Linked DNA regions of Homo sapiens: region 1 is linked to region 2. Evidence: fine-mapped expression QTL. Tissue or cell type: whole blood. Region 2 holds a variant in brackets; the other region holds the start of a gene. All regions are shown on one strand. Distances are from middle to middle. Region 1 holds the start of NOXRED1 (NADP dependent oxidoreductase domain containing 1). Region 2 overlaps SPTLC2 (serine palmitoyltransferase long chain base subunit 2).

What was found. PIP is the estimated chance that this variant, and not a neighbour inherited with it, causes the effect.
Region 1: it holds the start of NOXRED1, and the variant in region 2 is the best candidate, but not a certain one, in a credible set for the expression of NOXRED1 in whole blood (INTERVAL, PIP 0.72).

The regions. Positions count from the first base shown.
Region 1 is chr14:77,421,133-77,426,513 of GRCh38, reverse strand. NOXRED1 (NADP dependent oxidoreductase domain containing 1) reads left to right here and starts at 2,991. Exons shown (of 6, transcript NM_001113475.3): 1 at 2,991-3,779. The coding sequence starts at 3,625.
Region 2 is chr14:77,555,422-77,560,797 of GRCh38, reverse strand. SPTLC2 (serine palmitoyltransferase long chain base subunit 2) reads left to right here. Exons shown (of 12, transcript NM_004863.4): 7 at 3,652-3,757; 8 at 5,279-5,376. Among named protein-coding and RNA genes, the nearest start is that of SPTLC2, 59 kb to the left of the region's middle. The variant A/G (reference allele first, on the strand shown) is at 2,693.

The DNA.
Region 1 (5,381 bases), 130 kb after region 2:
AACAGCACGGTGCTGGGAGACACAAGACCTGACTTTTTCCAGCTCTACCACTAAATAGTTATGTGATGCTGGGTGAGTCCCTTTCTTTCTCTGGATTCATTAGATAATCTAAAATTTTGTAGAGTTTGTTTGTTTGTGAGATGGTGTCTCGCTCTGTCGCCCAGGCTGGAGTGCAGTGGCGCTCTCAGCTCACTGCAACCTCCACCTCCCAGGTTCAGATGATTCTCCTGCCTCAGCCTCCCAAGTAGCTGGGATTACAGGCACCTGCCACCACGCCCAGCTAATTTTTGTATTTTTAGTAGAGACAGGGTTTCGCCATGTTGGCCAGGCTGGTCTCAAACTCCTGACCTCAGTTGATCCGCCTGCCTTGGCCTCCCAAAGTGCTGGGATTATAGGCATGAGCCACCGCACCCGGCCTGTTTTTTTAAATAGACATGGTCTGTCACCCAGGCTGGAGTGCAGCGGCACCGTCATGGCTCACTGCAGCCTTGACATCCCAGACTCAAGCAATCTTCCTGCTTCAGCCTCCTGAGTAGCTGGGACTACAGGCACGTGCCACCACACCCAGCTAACATTTTGTAGAGTTCTGTGCTCCTGTGACTGTGGAGTGGGTGAAGTCATAGAAGGCAAAGAGAAGATGCTCCTACAGAGGCACATGCCATGCCTTAAGGCAATATGGCTCTCAACTGGAGGCAGTTTTGCCCCTCAAGAGACATTTGGCAATGTTCGAAGTTGCTTTCTGTTGCCACACTAGGCGTGCTACTGGCATCCAGTGGGTAGAGGTCAGGGACGCTGCTAAACGCCCTACAATCCACAGGACAGCCCCACAACAAAGGATTATCCTGCCCACATGTTAGCAACACCAGTGTTGAGAAACTGCTTTAAGGGGATCAGACTCCATCTTTTGCTCCTCCACTTTGCAATTCCAGGTAACCTCATATTTAGTTCCTTTCTTGATCATCCTTCTTGCTATTGAAGAAACAAGAGTTTAATTTGCTAGATTGTACTAAAATTATTGGTTCATCTTCAAACAAACAGTGGTTACTTTATTAACTAGTATATTGGTTAGGGTTCATTTAGAGAAGCAGAACCACTAGGCATATATATGCATTATCTAATCTAATCTAATCTAATCTATATCTGCTGTTTGTTAGAGAATTTTGACCTTTCTCTGACCTGTTTAGAGAAATTGGATGAGAAGTACCGAGGAGTAGAGCCTGTCTTTTCTGTTTGAGTACTTCCACTCAAGTATGGCAGCTGGAGGGTGTGTTTAACGTAGTTGTCTTCATGTCCAGTGGTAGAGCTTGAAATCCATAGGGAAGGCCGTGAAGAAGGGAAGATCATTATAAAGTGAGTGAGCAGGGACAAGCTAGAAACCATGAGAAGGGACTGGGACCCATGTCAGTTCTCACAGCCTCAAACCTTGATGAGGTGGGTGTCCCGCTGCTGGAAAAGCTAGTGGCCTTTGTCATGGAAATGAAAAACACCTGGCCCAGGAGTGAGCAACTGAAGAAGGAACCAGGGAAGATGTAGCAGTTACAGGCCCAACTGTTGCCCCTCACCAACAAGGTACTCAGCAGATAAACAACAACATGTGTGAACTACAAAAGTACTTCCCCTGATTATGCACACTGAAACACAGACTGGTTACTGTTCATTTCCACCCTCCTGATCTTGCATAGAAATATCTCTGGTGGTCCACCTTAACTGGAAACATACAGGGAAGGACATTCTGGAAATTGCAGTTCAGCCTAGCCAAGGTGACATAATACAAAATATAACAACTGATCCCCACTTTTGAGAATGCATAAGTAAAGGATAGGCCTAGAATTCATGTCTGTACAACTTGTATGCTGCATTGGTCATGCTAATCTAGGTTTTGAGCTTCTTTTTCCTTCGGAGCAGGAAGCATTACTTGGCAACATTAGGATGACCTACTGACTGTTTTGGTGTAAGAAAATGTTTCTTAGGTTTGATGAGAACGTCCATGCCCCTCATTTCAAGTGCAGAGACTTTGCTTTTACTTTATTTTATTTTTTATTTTTTTGAGATGGAGTCTCCCTCTGCCGCCCAGGCTGGAGTACAATGGCGCAATCTCAGCTCACTGCAACCAACGTCCATCTCCCAGGTTCAAGCAATTCTCCTGCCTCAGCCTCCTGAGTAGCTGAGATTACAGACGTGCCACCACACCCAGCTAATAAGTAGCTGCCACCATGCCCAGCTTTTTAGTAGAGATGGGGTTTCACCGTGTTAGTCAGGCTGGTCAAACTCCTGACCTCAAGCGATCCGCCTGCCTCGGCCTCCCAAAGTGCTGCGATTACAGGCGTGAGCCACCACGCCAGGGTGAGACTTTGCTTTTAAAGAGATGGTGTCGTCATATAACAGCCTTCCTATAAAAGGGATTAGAGAAGCCAGACACAAAAGGTCACATATTGTATGATTCCATTTATATAAAATATCTGGAATAGGTAAATCCATTCAGACAGAAAGCAGATTGGTGGTTCCAGAGGCTGAGGGTGGGGAGGGATAGGGAGTAACTGCTTAATGGGTGTAGGCGTTCCTTTTGGGAATATGAAAGTATTTTGCAACAAGATAGAGGTGGTGGCACAACATTCTGAATGTACTGATGAATTGTTCACTTTAAAATGGCTAATTTTATGTTATGTGGATTTCACCTGAAAAAATTTTATTGGTTTCTTGAACACAAAAAGAAGGAGTTGTAAACTAACTCAAGTAGTGCTAAGATCTGTAAGATATTCTAGTCTGCAAAAAAAACCCCTAGAAATCCAGAATCTTCTGTTGGGAAAAGGAGGGTCTCATACTGCTCTAGTGTAGTACTCCTAGAAATAGTGGAAGGAACTCATGTCCTGATACGCAGCTCAGGAAAACCTCTAAGTGGGGCTGGCCTCTTTAAGACTTAGAGACTGTAATCTGGTAGTTAAGGAGTCATAATCACAAGTTTCTTGGTAATTCTCCTTAGAAATGTAGTTCTTACCTTCCAGGATCAGAAGTACTGAGGAGCAGAGCCAATCTTCTCTGTTTGGTGATAGATATATGTAGATGGGTTTATATGACTTTGAGTTTAGTTTGTAAAATCTAGATGTCCCTGCCCTAGACAGGGGACAATGATATTTAGTTTGGGTTATTTTGTACCCTGTGGAGAACAGAGTTTAGTGAAAGGGAAGCATTTCTTTGAAATGTGGTTCTATGTGTTCAGTCCTATTTCCAAAACGCAGGAGGGAATGGAAGGGAAAACGTCCTGGCCCAAGAATACCTGTAAAACTCAATTGCTGTTGTAAATTCATCTGCCGAAAACAGTGCCTGTAACCTGTGTGGAGAAACAATACTTTGGGTTTCTGTACAGGTTTTTCATGAGTCCAGGATTCATGGGCAGCCAGTGATTAGGAATCCTCAAACACTCACACTCTAGAGTGTGAATTCAAGAGAGGTGAATTCCAAATTCAGAATCTGGGAGTAGAGAGGTGCTGAAGCCCATCATCATGAGTGCTTGTGACCTGGGCACACACACCATCATACACACACCTCCTACATAGACCCCTCTTCTACCGGGACAGGGAGCCAAATTGATTAGTGTCTATCACTGCAGGAAATAGTGGCTTGGAAATGGACATGCTCCAGGACCTTGAGTCCCTGCAGTTTGAGTATGGGGTTCCAGAGGAAGATCGTATCTGGCTGTATTTGCAGGGCCGTTCTCGGGGACTGATGATCGAGGCTTGTGCCCATGCAACCTTCTTCTGCAAACTATTATATAATTTGAGGTAAGCCGAGTATCCAAATTCAGGAAGATGGACAAGAATCTCACTGCTGAGAATTCAAATGTCTTAAATTTTTTTTATATTGGAGGGTAAGTTTGGCTGGTGGATTGTCATCCTATCTTTTCCAACCCAGAGTCAATGACTCCTGGTCTAAAAGGACAGGAAAATCTATACCAGGGTCCCCTGGCTGTGGTTACATAATAAAGCATGGATTAGTAGTGATTACCTTTTAGTGGATGGATTGATTAAATGATCATTTATTCATCCATTCACTCAGTCATCATGACCACCAGCTTGCCCTCCACAGTTGCTAATGTCTAGCCATTCCTTATCTATTGGCAAGGAATGCAAATGGAATCAGTTCTTTCTTTTGGGGCTGAGGTAATAGTGGAATGCTCCCTTACAGGAAGCTACCCGGGACTTCACAGGCCCTGTGCCAGTGACTTCCTTGAAACCAGGAATATTGATTTGCAGAAAAGCTGTCAGTCCAGTCTTGATTCTGATATCTTTCTACAATATGGCTTCAGACACTTAAATAGGAAATGTGTGTGAAGCAGGTACCTATAATTAGGCTTCTGAATTCTGCAACTCCAGGTCACTCTGGGAGCATATGTCACCTCCTCACTCTACTTCTTAGTTTTTCTCTGAAGTTAGATTAATTCCTAGATGGTGGGACCAAATTTGAATTGAACATGTTTATAGATACAGCACATGTCCAAGGAGGCAGGCTTCTCAGTGAATTTACTGACTGGCTTACTGATAAGGATGCATAAACCTATTGGTGGTACTCAATATGACTGGGAGAAAACAATATATGAAACTTGCAGGTGGCATTTTATATTTGGAAGGATCAGGCACTAAGAGAAAATGCTCTTTCAACCAGGAGAGAAGGCTTAAATAGAGAGTGACTTATGTTGCTTAGAAGCAAAATCCAGAGCTTTAAGACACTGGTTTTTACAGAAATACAGAACAAATATAAGGCTGTCATATAGCAACGAAAGTATACCTTATGTATTCAGAAGTCTGACTTTGTTAATCTTGCGCCAAGGAAACACATCCAGCACCAACAGTAAGTGAACCTCTGGAAATAGTGGTCTGAAATCTTCATCCTTAGTTTCTCAGTTCTGTTCTTTTTTGTTTTGTTTTTGTAGTTTAAAGTTGTACCCTGAATGAACACTGTTTTGTTTTTATAAACCATTTATGTGTATAAGTCATAACCTTCTTAAAAAGCCAAGTTATCTGGTTTCTCAAGTCTGCAGATTTGAAATAGCAAACTAGAAAGAGTGGGTGTATCGTAGGAAAGGAATGCACTCACATCTAATAGCAATAAAAATTGACATCTGTCTCAGATTGGTATCAGTAAGATGAAGAAATAGGAAGCTCCAGACTCTGTAACCTCGAGACACTAACTTAACAACAATATATGGTCCAAAAAGCCTTTATGAAACCTCCAGCAAGCACTTAAGAAATTGTAGTGCCCTGGAGAGGTACAAATCCAAGAACAGCTGCATTTACAGGGGTAAGAAAAGCCATTGCAGTTCACCTAAGATATCCCTTTCCTCAAGCCAGCCTCAGGTGATCAGGAGAAAATGCCTAATTTGTGGC
Region 2 (5,376 bases):
CCCACTTACAAGTGAGAATATGTGGTATTTGGTTTTCTGTTCCTGTATTAGTTTGCTTAGGGTAATGGCTTCTAGCTGCATCCATGTTGCTGCAAAGGACATGATCTCATTCTTTCTTATGGCTACATAGTATTCCATGGTGTATATGTACATATATATATATATATTTTTATTTTTATTTTTGAGACAGAGTCTTGCTCTGTCTCCCAGGCTGGCATGCATTGGCATGAACTCAGCTCACTGCAACCTCTACCTCCCCAGCTCAACCGATCCTCCCATCTCAGCCACCCTAGTAGCTGGGACTACAGATGTGTTCCACCACGCCCGGCCAAGTTTTTTGTTTTTTGTTTTTTGTGTTTTCTTTTTGTATTTTTTGTAAAGATGGGGTTTCACCATGTTGCCCAGGCTGGTCTTGAACTCCTGGGCTCAAGCAATCCACCCACCTTGGCCTCCCAGTACTGGGATTATAGGCATAAGCCACCACGCCTGGCCCACATTTTTTTAATCCAGTCTACTGTTGATGGACATTTAGATTGATCCTATGTCTTTGCTGTTGTGAATAGTGCTACAATGAACATACACATGCTTGCATCTTGTATGAATTTTTCCTCAACAACATGAGATTGACTGTTCCTACTCACTGGCCAACATAGGCTATGGTGAATCATTTTAAATCTTTCCAAATCTAATGAGGAAATAATATGTTAGTTTTTATTTCATTGCTTATTAGATATAGAACAACTTTTTGCATTTTTACTGTTTTTTTAACTCTACTTGTAAGCTAATGTGTTTGTATTTCTTTATAAATTGGCCATTTTCAAATTGTTTCTATTTTTTACTGATTATAAGAGCCCTTTATATTAATTATCTTTTCCTTTATGTTGCATTATTTTATTATTATTTTTTTGAGACAGGGTCTTGCTGCATCACCCAGGCTGGAGTGAAGTAGCAGAACCACAACTCACCACAGCCTTGACCTCCTAGGTTCAAATGATTCTCCTGCCTCAGTCTCCTGAGTAGCTAGGACTGTAGGCATCCACCACCATGCCGGACTAGTGTTTTTTATTTTTTATAGAGACAAAGTCTCGCTGTGTTGCCCAGGTTGGTCTTGAACTCTTAGGCTGAAACGATCCTGCTGTCTCAGCCTCCCAAAATGCTGGGATTACAGGAGTGATTCACCATGCCCAGACTGCACTATTTTTATATTTTTGACTTTGTTTTCAGTGTCTTCCTGTACAGACTCATGAAAATGTTTTTGTTGCCACACTTACTGTTTTACGACTTTCGGATTTTACACAATACCCTCCTCATTCTCAGATCATAATGTTATTCTTTCATGTTTTCTTCTGGGAGTTTTGCGATATATTTTTTATTTAAATTTATGTGGAATTTGGGGGCATAACATTGGAGAGATTGAATTTTTTTTTCTAAGTAGATAATATGGTTAAGCATTCTGCTATAGGTATTTCTTTTTTTTGAAACAGTCTTGCTCTGTCACCCAGGCTGGAGGGCAGTGGCGTGATCTTGGCTCACTGCAACCTCCGTCTCCTGGGTTTAAGCGATTCTCATGTCTCAGCCTCCCAAGTAGCTGGAATTACAGGTGCCCACCACCACAACCGGCTAATTTTTTTTGTATTTTTAGTAGAGACAGGGTTTTGCCATGTTGGTCAGTCTGGTCTCGAACTCCTGACCTTAAGCGATTCACCCGCCTCGGTCTCCCAAAGTGCTAAGATTACAGGCGTGAGCCACCACACCTGGCTGATGCTTCTTTTATCTAAAATTTTGACCAGTATTATTTTTCTCCTCCTTCTATATATAAACAGAGAAAACTAAAATAATTCCTGTGTTTTTACTTGTCTTCAGCTGATCGCCATACATTGCTCTCTGCCTAAGAACTGGAGGCTTTGCAGGACTTGGGGAGGCCAAGGAGGGCAGATCACCTGAGGTCAGGAGTTCAAGACCAGCCTGGCCAAAATGGTGAAACCCCACCTCTACTAAAAATACAAAAATTAGCTGGATGTGGTGGCATGCACCTGTAATCCCAGCTACTCAGGAGGCTGAGGCTGGAGAATCACTTGAATCCAGGAGGCGGAGGTTTCAGTGAGCAGAGATCACGCCACTGCACTCCTGCCTTGGCGACAGAGCAAGACTCTGTCTCAAAAAAAAAAAAACAAAAAAACTGGAGGCTTTGAGTCAGGACGTAATTTACTTCTGTAGGGAACATCTCCTGAATCTTGATTAGGTCGTATGCAGATTTTTTTCTTAGAAATTACTGAATGTGTAAGCACAGTCACAACCTTAGACTATCTTATTTGTGTTTGTGTTCTGTGTTTTTATTACCTTATCTCTTTTTCTGTCAAAATTGTTTTCTGCAAAGAGCAAAATCATGTACTTTTATAACTCCTTCCTCCAGTTACAAGCAATACAGAATACAAAATCAGATTTTATGATAGGGCCAGGCGTGGTGCTCACGCCTGTAATCCCAGCACTTTGGGAGGCCGAGGCAGGCGGATCACCTGAGGTCAGAAGTTCAAGACAAGCCTGGCCAACATGGTGAAACCCCGTCTCTACAAAAGTACAAAATTAGCCTGGCGTGATGGCGGGTGCTGGTAATCCGAGCTACTTGGGAGGCTGAGGCAGGAGAATTGCTTGAACCTTGGAGGTGGAGGCCTCAGTGAGGAGAGATCACACC[A/G]TTGCACTCCAGCTTGGATGACAGAGGGAGACTCCATCTCAAAAAAAAAAAAAAGATTTTATGATAGGATGTCTCCCACCCCTATTAAGTATTCCCCAGACTTAATGTTGCTTAAATTTGGGGGAGTTTTTTTTAAGGACTTCATTTCAGGGCAGGTATTTTAAGTATGAAATCTGTAGTGTGGCAACAATGGTCTTCAAAGCATTTGTCTTTAACAAGGAAATTATGATCATCATTAATGGCAGTAGCAGCCAAGTTGTTTCCAGGCCCATTAACCACCATAAGAACCAACAGAGCCACAAGAACTTGGTTGTTTATGGACAACTGATGAAGTCAAACATGGAACAATTTCAACTGATTGTCAGGCTTGCTTAACACACAGACTTATACATGCCCCAGACGGGTGTATTTTTAACCCAGTACCAAAATAAAACTCTTTAACAAGCGTTTATTGAGTACGTCCTGGGTGAAAGGAAATGGAGCACGCACTGTGAAGTTTTTTTACGCCTTGCGTTTGTTTTTTTAGGAGGAGTATGTGTCTGTGATGGTTTATTCACACTCTCTCGCTCTGTCTTTTTTACGCATTTATTTCCGAATGACTCACTGGGATTAGAGATACAGTTTGATTCTGTATTTTTCGATAAACACACAGAAGCTAACTTAATGGCAGGGTATTTAACATGAGACACTGGTCATTTTATAAGGAAGCTAATGAACTGAGTTAGCCACCACCGTCCTTTAGTCAAGTTTCGATGGTTTTGAACATTTGTTACATTTTGGATTTCAATTCAAGGTGGCAATAATTCACCTATTTTGCCCTGCTTTTTTCTGCCCAACTCTAATTATGTCCTTTGCTATCTGAGGCATGGTTTCTGAATGAGAAATATATCTCTGCATTTCCGGAATAAAGTTAGGAAAGAGGAAGATGCGGTATAACTGTTCTTTTTTGTGCTCTGTAGATATGCAAAGCCTAGAGAAGCTATTGAAAGATGCCATTGTTTATGGTCAGCCTCGGACACGAAGGCCCTGGAAGAAAATTCTCATCCTTGTGGAAGGAATATATAGGTAATCCTGCTTTATTATTCTTACCTTTGTGACTTGGCCCCATGAAGTCATAGAATTTTTTAACTGAAGGGAACATTAGTCTATCCCCCTCTGGAAACTAAGGAGACAGTGTTTATAAGTCGCTAAAATACCTGGAAACAGAGTCAGCATTAGAACAGAAGTCTTTTTGTCTAGTTCTTCGTTATTCTTTCCATAATACTACATGGTCACCAAATCCCCTTTCTATTTGAGTCTTTTATTTTTCTAGTTTGTAGAGGGAACCTATATGTAGGGGCAAGAATTGGAATATATATTTTAATATGTCAAAACAAATTACACACCATTTAATTTTAATAAATATTTTATTTTAGGCTGAGTGCAGTGGCTCACGCCTGTAATCCCAACACTTTGGGAGGCAAAAGTGGGAGGTCGCTCGAGGCCAGGAATTTGAGACCAGCTTGGGCAACATAGTGAGACCCTGTCTCTGTAAAAAATAAATAAAAATTAAAAAGAAATATTTTATTTTGGTTAACCTTTACAGCTTTTACACGTATTTTTACCACCTAATTTTTTTTGTTCTTTTGTGTCATTTTAATTGCCTGTGCAACGTGATGCAAAGTCTCATGTTGCCTGTAATTACAAGCTTTAGAAGAATCTGCTGTGACCTTAATTATTTTTGTCGTGAATTAAGATTGCTTGTGTTTGGTGCTTGTTTTTTGTTTTTTGGTGGTTTGGGTGGCTTTTTTTTTAAGATGGAATCTCGCTGTGTCACCCAGGCTGGAGTGCAGTGGCGGGATGTCGGCTCACTGCAACCTCCGCTTCCCGGTTCTCCTGCCTTAGCCTCCCGAGTAGCTGGGATTACAGGTGTGTGCCACCAAGCCCAGCTAATTTTTGTATTTTTAGTAGAGACGGGGTTTCACTGTGTTGGCCGGGCTGGTCTCGAACTCCTGACCTCAAGTGATCCGCCTACCTCAGCCCACCAAAGTGCTGGGATTACAGGTGTGAGCCACCGCGCCCAGCCAGTGCTTGTTTTAAAAGTCCAGTTTTCTTTCCCCTAGTCTTTTGCCTTGCCATGGCTTCATCTACCTTTGTCAGTTTAAGCCACAGATACAGTTGTCAGACCATTTAAAACCCAATAAACTCAGCCGGGCAGGGTGGCTTATTCCTGTAACCCCAGAACTGTGGGAGGCCAAGGCGGGTGTATCACTTGAGGCCAGGAGTTCGAGACTAGCCTGGGAAACATGAGGAAACCCTATCTCTACTAAAAATACAAACATTATCTGGGCGTGGTGGTGGCGGGCACCTCTAGTCCCAGCTACTTGGGAGGCTGAGGCACAAGAATCGCTTGAACCCAGGAGTCAGGGATTGTAGTAAGCCGAGATTATGCCACTGCACTTCAGCCTGGACAATGGAGCAAAACTCTGTCCCAAGAAAAAAAAAAGAAGCAGTAAACTCAATAATAATGAAGTGCCAAACTCCCAATTTTGATTTAAAAAGTCTCAGTGTATATGTGTATATATATATTTTTTCATGTTTTGCCAGCATGGAGGGATCTATTGTTCGTCTTCCTGAAGTGATTGCCCTCAAGAAGAAATACAAGGCATACTTGTATCTGGATGAGGCTCACAGCATTGGCGCCC